2 separate regions of the Homo sapiens genome follow, and region 1 is linked to region 2. The links come from fine-mapping of genetic effects on gene expression. A gene starts in region 2. The other region holds a variant in brackets. All regions are shown on one strand. Distances are from middle to middle.

Evidence for each region. PIP is the estimated chance that this variant, and not a neighbour inherited with it, causes the effect.
Region 1: its variant is fine-mapped to the expression of RAP2C-AS1 in lung (GTEx, PIP 0.95).

The regions. Positions count from the first base shown.
Region 1 is chrX:132,188,549-132,193,936 of GRCh38, forward strand. No RefSeq gene overlaps it. Among named protein-coding and RNA genes, the nearest start is that of RAP2C-AS1, 27 kb to the right of the region's middle. The variant T/C (reference allele first, on the strand shown) is at 2,526.
Region 2 is chrX:132,215,982-132,221,369 of GRCh38, forward strand. RAP2C-AS1 (RAP2C antisense RNA 1) reads left to right here and starts at 2,526. Exons shown (of 3, transcript NR_110410.1): 1 at 2,526-2,856. RAP2C (RAP2C, member of RAS oncogene family) reads right to left here and starts at 3,466. Exons shown (of 6, transcript NM_001271186.2): 1 at 3,389-3,466; 2 at 2,251-2,360; 3 at 1,935-2,031; 4 at 1,015-1,825. The coding sequence starts at 1,287. RefSeq lists silencers at 1,456-1,895, 1,906-1,955 and enhancers at 3,388-3,457, 3,788-3,837.

The sequences.
Region 1 (5,388 bases), 27 kb before region 2:
TTATCCTGGAAAAAGAAAGAGGTATACAAACTTGGCCCAGTAAGAAAGCTTTAGTAACTAGAGGGGAGGGACATTTCTGAGTAGAGCACAGTGGCTGTCACTCGAGTTTGTCTCCAGACTTAGCACCACAGATTCAATGTCTGAGCCTTATGGGTATGTAAGAAGTTGTAGTCAATAAAAACAAAAACAGCTGTTTTACAAAAATATTTTGTCATTATGCACATGCATGACTGCTTTGGGACTGTACTAATTCATTCATTTTTTTCAGTCAACAAATATATTTATCTAACACCTGCTCTGTACCAGATACTGTGCTAAAAACGCTGGGGATGAAGCAGCAAACAAAGTGACAGAGCTTACATTTGAGTGTAGCCCCCAAAAGAGAGGCATTTTCTGCCACATCCTCCCAAATATCATATACTTGGACATCTATAGGCAGAGTTGCAGCTAGTCTATACTGTATCTGTACAAATTAGAAAATGGCACCTGCTCTAGGCAGCCCCAAATCTTGGTGAGGGAACAATGCACTCTCTGAGCAGGTGAATTAGAAATAGGTATGCATCTTCTCCTCTAGGACAGATTCAACTCCACAGGCATACTGCATGACAGGGGAACACGGGATGAATTTGACAACTCCTTGTCCTCTCAGAGAGACATCTCTTGTGCAGTGTGCAATCTGTACAACAGTCCATGGTGACCATGGCTGCAAGTCTCCAAGGTGTCAACAGTTGCTCTGGGCACAAGATAGTGATGCCCAGCACTAATTTTGGTGGTATTTTAGAAAAGCTACTACTAAGGGAAACTATTATTACTCCATAGAAGTAACAGCAGTTTCTACTGTGAATTACAGAAGCCAGCAGAGGCAGCTGATATCCAGTTGATGTGGTACCATGCCTTCCAAATGCAGCATTACACAGCGCAAGTGTCAGCTCTGCCTAGAAAATATAGCAATGCTTAGATCACATGAGAGCACTTAGAGGATATAAGCTGGAGCACAATAATGGGAGAAAGAAAACACAAAATCCATGTACTTATTCTGACACTACTCATTCATGACCATGTGTGAGAACCCCCCTAAAAACACCCAGAAAAAATTTATTGTGGTACAAACCCTTCGGGGGATAAAGGAGAAGGCAAGAACTAGAAAATGTGTGTGTGTGTGTGTGCGTGTGTGTGTGTGTGTGAGAGAGAGAGAGCGCGAGAGAGCGCATGCATGTGTGCAAATATGTGTATGCACAGGCAGCCCAGGGGCTTCTCTTTGCATTTCACATAAAGGATAGAGTCAAAATGTGTAGCTATAGCTTTCCAGCCTCTCCAAGAAGAGGGGTAGTTTTCCCTTGCGTAAAATAAAATCCATTTGTTCAGCTATGCAGAAAGAGTTTTCTTCAATATTGGTTGAGCGATTGAATTTAGATCCACAGTACTCAAAGTACTATTGATAGCAATATTAGGATATTTATATCTAGAATCTTAAGGCTTTGTTTAGATTTATGTGAGTTATTTGTATATTAAGAATATCAACCATTTAAAGAACTGCTGTTAAATATTCACAGTTTTTCCTAATGTGCTGCTTTTTATTAACAGACTGTTTTCTGATTTTAAAAGCAATATATGCTAGCCTGAAGAGTATGTAAAATTTACAAAGGAAATAAAAATTAGCCATAGCCCCACCATCTACACACACACACACACACACACACACACACACACACACACACAAATGCTATGTAAATAGTTGTTATACTATATTTTTTATTTTCATTATTTTATTGATATATATATGAATATATATCTGAATATATATATGAATAGTTTTGATCAGCAGTTGGTTGATTCCACAGATGCAGAACCCATGAATATGGAATACATGGTTATAGAGGGCTGATTGTATATACACATATGCAATCCATATCCACGGATTATGCTGCTATATATAATTTTGTGTTCTCATTTTCACTTAACCATATATATATACACATACATGTATGTATATATACGTATATATGTATATACGTATATATATGCATATATATATACAATCAGCCCTCCATATCCATGGGTTCCATATCCATGGGTCCTGCATCTGCAGAATCAACCAACCACTAATCAAAACTGTTCCCATAAAAAAACAAGAAAATAATACAAATAAAAACTATAGTATAACAACTATTTACATAGCGTTTGCATTGTGTTAGGTATGATAAGTAATCTAGAGGCAACTTAAACTATATGGGAGGATACGTATAGGTTATATGCAAATACTATACCATTTTATATCAGGGATTTGACCATCACAGATTTTGGTATCCACGGGGGTACTGAAAGCAATCCCCTACAGATACTGGGAGATGTGTGTGTGTGTGTGTGTGTGTGTGTGTCCATTAATATTGTGATGTTTTTCCATGCATACACACACACAAACACACATTAGGATTCTGCTGCTGTATACAATTTTGTGTTCTGATTTTCACTTAACCTTTTATTGAGAACATTTCCCCATGTCATATTGTATATTCTATAAAATA[T/C]ATTTAATAAATGGCTGCATAGTATTTCATTTTATCAATAGGCCATAAAGATTTTCTTTTCCTATTATAAATAACATTTCAATAAACATCCTCAAATATACATGTTTATGAGCATCTTTGCTTAGTTACTATTATATATTATTGGAAGTGGAATTATTCAGTCGAGTTGATGAACATTTAAAAGATTCCAGATACATACCACTAAAGTGTTCTCTATTTAAGGTTAAGCTGATTTACACTCAATGTACAGTCTTAGCAGTAGTGTATAAGTGCTCTTTTTACCCCATGTCTGTTAAATAATGAGGATTATCTTTTTATAAATATCTTTATTAATTTATTCATAATAAAATGTATGTTTTAGTTTCAGATAGTATGGCTGTCTAGGTATTTGGACAGATTTCTGCAGGCAGAAAACAGCTAAAACTGCTGGATAAAGCATATGCATATTATGCTATGTACAGTGTATATATATATACATATATAGTGTATATATGATATGTGTGGAGAAAGAGAATCTTGTTAAAAGTGTCAAAAAGCTAATGAGATGGAAATTACCAGGCATGGATCTAAATGAAGGCAGCAACCCAAAGAAATAAGCCAAGCCCTGAAATTTTTCCCTAAGGACATTTGCCAAAACAGCCTAATTTGAACTTTGCTCTTTTGTGTCTATGTGATTTATCCAGATATGGGGACAGAACATAAAGCTCAGGGCTCTACCAAGATGGGGAAACTAATTAAGAGTCCCTACCACCATAAATCCAGTATCCTAAGGGGTTATGTTCTCAGTGTAAAGGTGAACCAGAAATAAATACATATCCTCAGGAAAATGTAAGGAAAGTTTCTTTGTTGCCTATCACAGCTAGTTGATGGGAGAAGGCGAATAACCATTCCTGGTAAATTATAACCACAATTTAGCTCTTGTGTGGGTTTATTGCCCCACATTTACATTACAAGTGAGAACATGTGGTATTTGGCTTTCTGTTCCTGTATCAATTCACTTATGATAATGGCCTCCAGCTGCATTCATGTTGTTGCAAAGGACTTGACTTCCTTTTTTATGGCTGCATAGTATTCCATATATGTACCACATCTATGAAAATATCTTTGAATCTTGAGGATAAAATACAATTTTCAAACAGTCAGGGACTTTGCCACCAGCAGACATACAATATAAGAAATGATAAAGGATGTATACTACAGGCAGAAGGAATATGATTTTTGATAGAACATTTGAATACCAAGAAAGGTTGATAAGCAAAGAAAATGACAAATATGCAGGGATAAGGAAACTAACTACATAAAACAATAGTATCTTGTGGAGTTTCTTCAAAATAAGAGAAGTTAAGTACACAACAATGAAATAATATTTCACTGTTGTATTATTTGCATATTTTTGTTACCAGTAAGCTTGAACAATTTTTGTATGTAGCCATATATATCTTTTCTATGAAATATTTTCTTTGTCTAATTTTCTCTTGAATTTTTAAGTTTTTCTTTTCAATTTGTATGAGTTTTAAAAGATAGATTAAAGCTATCAATCCCTCATTTATCATATTTGTTACAATATTCTTCCAAGTTTTAAAAATCTAGTACAATCTAAAAATCTTTTGTTATGCCATCCATTGCTTTTAAACTTAAAAAGGTTTTCATTATTAGCAGATCTGACGAACAGTCTTTTTGGGTTTTTTCTATTGTTTTTGTTTAGTTTTTCACATTCCCTTTTTTAGATCCTTCTGGATTCTGTATTAATACATGCTGTGAGATGAAGCTCTAAAGAAGCCATGTTTGCTTGTTTTTGCTTGCTTGCATGATTTCACAAAGACCCTGACTCTGTGATAATGTGCACCTCTCTGGAAAGATGCTTTGAAGACAAAACAGGATAGAGCACATGGTCCCCCACTTCTCTTGCCTGAGATGTATATTCCTTAAAAGATGAATGATCCTAGTCCTTGCCTTTTCAGCACAGAAGATAACATCTGACTGGGTTAGTGATTATGCCTTTGTATTGATAACCATATGTACTTTATTTTTTTTTTTTTGAGATGGAGTCTAGCTCTGTCACCCAGGCTGGAGTGCAGTGGTGCGATCTCGGCTCACTGCAACCTCTGCCTCCTGGGTTCAAACCATTCTTCTGCCTCAGCCTCCCAAGTAGCTGGGACTACATGTGCACACCACCACACCTGGCTAATTATTTGTATTTTTAGTAGAGATGGGGTTTCACCATGTTGGCCAGGCTGGTCTCGAACTCCTGACTTCAAATGATCTGCCTGCCTCAGCCTCCCAAAGTGCTGGGATTACAGGCGTGAGCCACTGTGCCCGGCCCCAGATGTACTCTTATACCCAAACAGTTATATGATTGGAATGTAACTTCTGAGCAAGTTTAATGTGATTTTGCATGTACCAAACCCCTACCACCTATATATAAGCAATAGGCTGAAATACTGTGCAGGAGCACAGTATTTAGGCCTTGGTCTATAGTCCTCCATAAGGCTAAATAAGACTAACTTCATTTAAAAGCTTCATTTTTTTCTTTAGTCAACAATAGTTATCTAATTATCCAAGCACTATTTGTAGTATAATTTCATACTTCCCCACATATGTTAATACCTTCTTATAATGTGTTACATTATATGAACAAGAAATCTTTGGGGGGGTGATCCTTGTGTTTCACTGATCTGTCTGTTCATTCTTACAGTTGTGTCAACCTGTTTTAATTACTATAGCTTTGTACTATATTTTCATGAATGCTAAGGCTAAGTCTTGTGCTTACCATTACTCTTAGTTTTTCAAATAATTCGAAAATCAAGATGAACAGTAAATTGGTTTTCAGAAGTACATTGATTGATATTGAGAGGTGACAGCG
Region 2 (5,388 bases):
ACATTGTATTGGCTAAAGCACTTAAGGTCTCTTAAGTAAGCTACATTAAGTGCATACCTTTAAATGCAGAAAAAATATATCCATTTCCTAAATCAATGGAGGTCAATATAATGGGTCAATATGAGGTTATTCATTTTCAAGGGATAAATAGAAACATACATTGCATATCCTAAAATAACGTTAAACCTTCAGTCTGTTTCCCAGTGAAGGACAGGACAGATTTTCTAAGAGATTGGACCACATCCAGTTTGGCCACCCAGCCGGAGTAAGAAATCTGCACTTGTTCAGTGTTCCCAGACCCACGTATTTTCTGTAAATACAGGCAATGTTACCAGAAACAATTTGGATCAACTGCAGAAAAAGAGTCATTCCTGATTTTTGTTGGTTATTAATTCTAGGTACTAGTCTTTTCTATTAGTAACTTTTCTTCCTACTACACGCCCCAAGTAATTAAGTAAAATGCCTAGAAGGCAGGTCTTGAGTTCTTCGTCTTGCAACACTAAGATTTATGAATCTAGTTGAGAAACTTGAGAGAGAAGGGGAGGGCGGCGGGAGGGGGTGTTGGGGGGTGGGAGGGGAAGGTGTGGGTGGGACAGACACAGAGGACTTATCTGTGCAACAGATAATCGGCTCCAAATAATTTTTTCAAAGTGCTCTATTTACCCGAGATTATTTGTTAGATGTTTTGTCGTGTAAGTTAATCAATACTTGTTGAATTGAGCAAGCAACTTCAGAAGGTTATATTCCAGGCGAAATATACACAGACTGACATTTCTTTTTCACTTTTCTTTCACTTAAAAATAGCTTTAAAATATTTGTTGACGCTTGTTACTTTTTACTACGCTCTATAGAAACAACCCGATAGTCTTCCATGGCAGGAGTAACCTCAAAAATGCGTCATGTCTAACTTTCAAAAGCAAAGCACAGTCATTAATGCACGGTTCAAGCAACCCAGAAGTCGATGTCGGATTACCACACCCCCTTCTAACAAATTACAAGACTTGGTTTGGTTACCTGAAAAGACTGTTGATTAACCAGGCTATAAACCAGGATGAAACCTTGGCCGTTTTTGATGTAGAGATCTCTCATGGAGGCAAACTGCTCAGTTCCTGCGGTGTCCAGAATTTCCAGCACGGAGGGGGAAGAGTCCACTTCGATCTCTTTGCGGTAGAAATCTTCAATGGTGGGGTCATATTTCTCAATGAAAGTCCCAGTGACAAACTGCACAGTAAGGGCAGATTTGCCAACCCCTCCACTCCCTAACACCACTACCTTGTATTCCCTCATGAGTCTCACCTTCACCAACTCCTACCAGAGGGGGGGAAAGATCACCCCGCTAGCTGTGGCGCGGCTAGACGAGGCGGAAGGTGGGCGGAAATCTGCGAACTGGGGAGGAGAGTGCAGAGGAGCAGAGGGCCCAACCGGGGAAGAAGAGGAAGTTACAGGAGGGGGAGGGGAAAGAGCGTAGAGTCGGGGAGGGTGGGGAAGGGATGGTAATGCCCTTCCTATAGGAACTGCAGCCCGAGCAGGGGGCGTGGGGAGGAGGGCGAGCCTGGGAAAAGCCCGGCGAGGGTGGCGAGGAGGCGCGTGCCCCCGGGAGGGAAAGGGTGGGGGCTGCGGCGAGGGGACCCTGCGGCGAGGCGGACGTCGGAGGAGCCCGCAGCCCGGGGCTGCCCGGCACTCCTCCCCCGCCCTTCACACAAAGGGGCCCAGGGACCCCGCTTCCTGCTCGCGCAGCCCAGCCGGCTCAGGCCTGAGGGCTCCGTTCCAGTTACCGCTGCCCGGGCGGGTTTCTGGGCCCCGGCTCCCGCGGGGGTCGTCCGGCCTGTGAAGGGGAGAAGGACGCACATTACCCGGCTGACCCCCGCCCCGAACCTGCGGCGCCGGCCGCCGCCTCCCCCAACTCCCACCCGGATCAAGCTACTGCCGCTTACCCCGCCGTCCGCACCCGCCCGGCCGCCGGGGAGGCTCTGTCACGCCAAGGCCATGGCCACCCGCTGGCTCCTCTGTCTCTCCGCTGCCCCAGCGCTGCTGCTCGCCGCGGGGAAAGAAGCGGGGGCCTTCCGCGGCGGCCGCAGGGACTCCAGGCGAACCCACCTCTTTTTTTTCTCACCCACCCCCCACCCCCACCCCCACCCCCACCCCCACCCCCACCAAGCACACACCCGGAAGGGTTTCCCTGACACACTGGCTGAGGTGCCCCAGTTCCCCGAGACTGGACGGGATCACTTCCGGTGGGGAAAGTCCCACCTCTTCGGGGCGAGCCGGGTGGCGCTGGAGCCGCGCCCTGCTGAGCGAGCGAGCCGGCCGGGGACGGTTTCGGGTCGGGACTCCGGCTTCGGGAACGGGCCTCTGGAAACCTGCGACGTCAGTCCTTACCCGCCCGCGGCTGCCGCGGACCGTCCCACCCCCAAACCCGTAGAAGCCCCTCCGACCTGCAACCTCCAGCCGCCCGGCCCTAGGACTTGAGCGGCTCCCTGGCCGGTGCGGAACCTGCGGGCTAATAATCTAGCGACCGGGAGAACGCCAAACATCCCTGGACTAGAAGTTGCAGGGGAAATCAAACAGCCCAGAAAGTTTATTCTCCTTGCTGGTATTTCTTCCACTTGCTATTTTGCTGAGAGATGCATGCAAACTACCCTTAGACTTTCAGATGCAGTGCGTTTTACTTAGCCGTGCCTGACAAACACACAGAACTTTTACCGTCTGGTAGATCCGCCTTGACTTTACCAGCGAATACTAAAGTCACTTAAAAAAAAATCACAAGGCTCGAAAACAGCAGCATTAGAAGTAGACTTTATGGTACTCTGCTCAGCTATGTTCTCATTTGATTCCAACCACTACACGGCAGAAAAGGTAACCAATATTCAAGAAAGATTTGATTGGAAACGGTTTAGGCCTAAAGACTAATTTATTTTAATCGTTGATTATGTATAACAATTTGCTTGGCTGGCTCTTACATGCTGAAGTTTTGTTTTAAAGGCCATCCTATGTAGTCTTTGAAATTCAAAAGCAAGTAGTAACTCTGGTGTTAGATTCTAAGTTTCTATTTTTAGATAAAATTGTTACTTCCGACTATCTTTCCCTTTGCTAGCTTTCTATTTGTAAACTTTGTGTCGGATCCACAGAGCCCCAGGGCCAGGAGTCTAGGCTGTATTTTAGGTGTGTCACTTTCTTTTCAATTCAAGCATGTACCCAGAAACCTGCGAGACTCAGTGGCCAGCCTAGCAAAAATGACTCCAAATTCCCTTACTTACAAGCCCTAAATGGCCAAACTCTATAAAGAGATTTATTACTCAGCCTAAATTGTTGGACATTAGAACACAGGCGAATCATAGTAGTGTGAGGTCCCACTGTCCCTCCCTGAGTATTCCCCAATGTCACTTACAGTCTTCAAAGGAGAGTTTAGTTCAATTTCTCCTTGACCTCAGGCCGGTGCCATCTCTCCAGCGAAGTCCCCAGCTCTGGCTCCAGCTGGCCTGGGCCCTGTGTCGTATCAGAGGCACTGCCCTCTGCTGGAAGGGGTTTGGTCTGTGAGTTATGAGTTTCCCCACAGGTCACTGCTCCTTTCACACGTGCTGTTGCCTGATTTGGAGCTCTGCTGCTCATCTCCCTGCCTAGCTGTCTCCAGACTGTCTGGTGGGATTCACAGCCCTCCACCAGCCGTGCTTGTAACTGAGTCTGGAAATTCCTCTTCTGATCCAGCCAGTGTTGAGCAATCGTGGCAAGTCTTTGCTCTATTACTAAACTGTCAAAGCAAGGAGTTCTTTTTCAGGTCATCCCACCTGTTGGCAATTCTAATATCTCTGAATGTGTTGGTCATGCTTAGGAGAGAGTTCTTTGTTTCTCCACGCAGTGAAACATACTCCTCCCCTCAGTACAGCGTCCTGTGGGGTCACTCTCGTCAACTACAGTGGACAAATATTACACTCAGTCTAAAGATCCTTCTAAACTTTCTTAGGAAGGGTATTCATTACAGCATTGATTAGGAAATCAAACAATTGGAAGAAGCTTAAATGTCCTTCAGTAGGTGATTTTTAAAAGTTTCATAGCTCTCTATATCTATTATCTATCATCTATCTATCTATCTACCAACCTACCTACCTACCTATCTGTATTCACAGAATAGGATATTATGCAGCTACTTTAAAAGAGAAAAGCAGATTTGTAAGTGTTTATATAAAAAGATGGCCAAGATATATTGTAGGGCTGAAAAAGCAAGATACTGAACAAATGTCTAGTTGCTACTGTTTATGTAAAACGCAGGTGTGTAATAGTTACATAGCCATTCAAATCTGAAACAAAGTAATTATGGGTGAGGACTATTATGAAATGGCTTTTATTTCTCCATATTTTAATTTATAAACAATAATTGGGAAAAAGGAAGTAAATATAACTTTATAATATTTTTAAAGGAGGAACAAAAGAAAGTTGTTGATCTTGGTTTTGTAAAAAAAAAAAAAAAAAATCCTGACTGTCTAGGGGTCAGTGGACAGGTCCGCCCAATTTAAACAAATTCCCTACCCTTGCTTGCCCTCCCCAAACATCTCTATACTTAGAAAAGTATTTTCACATACATTATCTCATTAGACTCCTGTTGTTTGCTAGTGTACTCTCATTAAGCAATGAGGGTATAAAGAGCAAGCAGAAGAGTGCGGCCTGGCAGTTGAGAGCTAAGGCTCTGAAATGAGACAGAGGTGCATTAAAATTGCAGCTCCGCCACATTCTAGCTCTGTGTCCCCAAGCAAGTGATTTCACTTGTCTGAGCCTCTAACTCCTCACTTGTAAAAAGGAGATAAGAAGTTAACGTGAAAATGTAATGAGGTATTACAGGTAAAGTGCTTAGCACAGTCCCTTGCACATTATAAAGCCTCAATAAATGCTATTTGGTTTTTATTTAAAAGATTTAATGAATTGTTAATTTTTAAAAAATAGCAAACATGGGGGTAACAAAATTTTAAAAGCTCAAATATCTGCAAGTGGCACGAAAATAATAATTCAGTTACTCTTCACAAAGATATTTATTGTTAAAAGCTTCTTATGTTTTTCAGGGGGGAACATTATTCATATGTCAGTGTATCAATCTACCTTCTATATATATTTTTAAAAATTACTGTACTACAAAAGTAATCAACTGTACACACTATTTTTTACCTTGCTTTTTAAACTTTAATTAATTAATTTTTTTAAGACAGTGTCTCCCTCTGTTACCCAAGCTGGAGGGCAGTAGCATGATCATAGCTCACTGCAGCCTCAACCTCCTGGACTCAAGGGATCCTCCCACCTCAGCCTCCCGAGTAGCTAGGACTACAGGTACATGCCACCACACACAGCTAATTTAATTTAATTTAATTTTTTTGGTAGAGATGGAGTCTTACTATGTTGCCC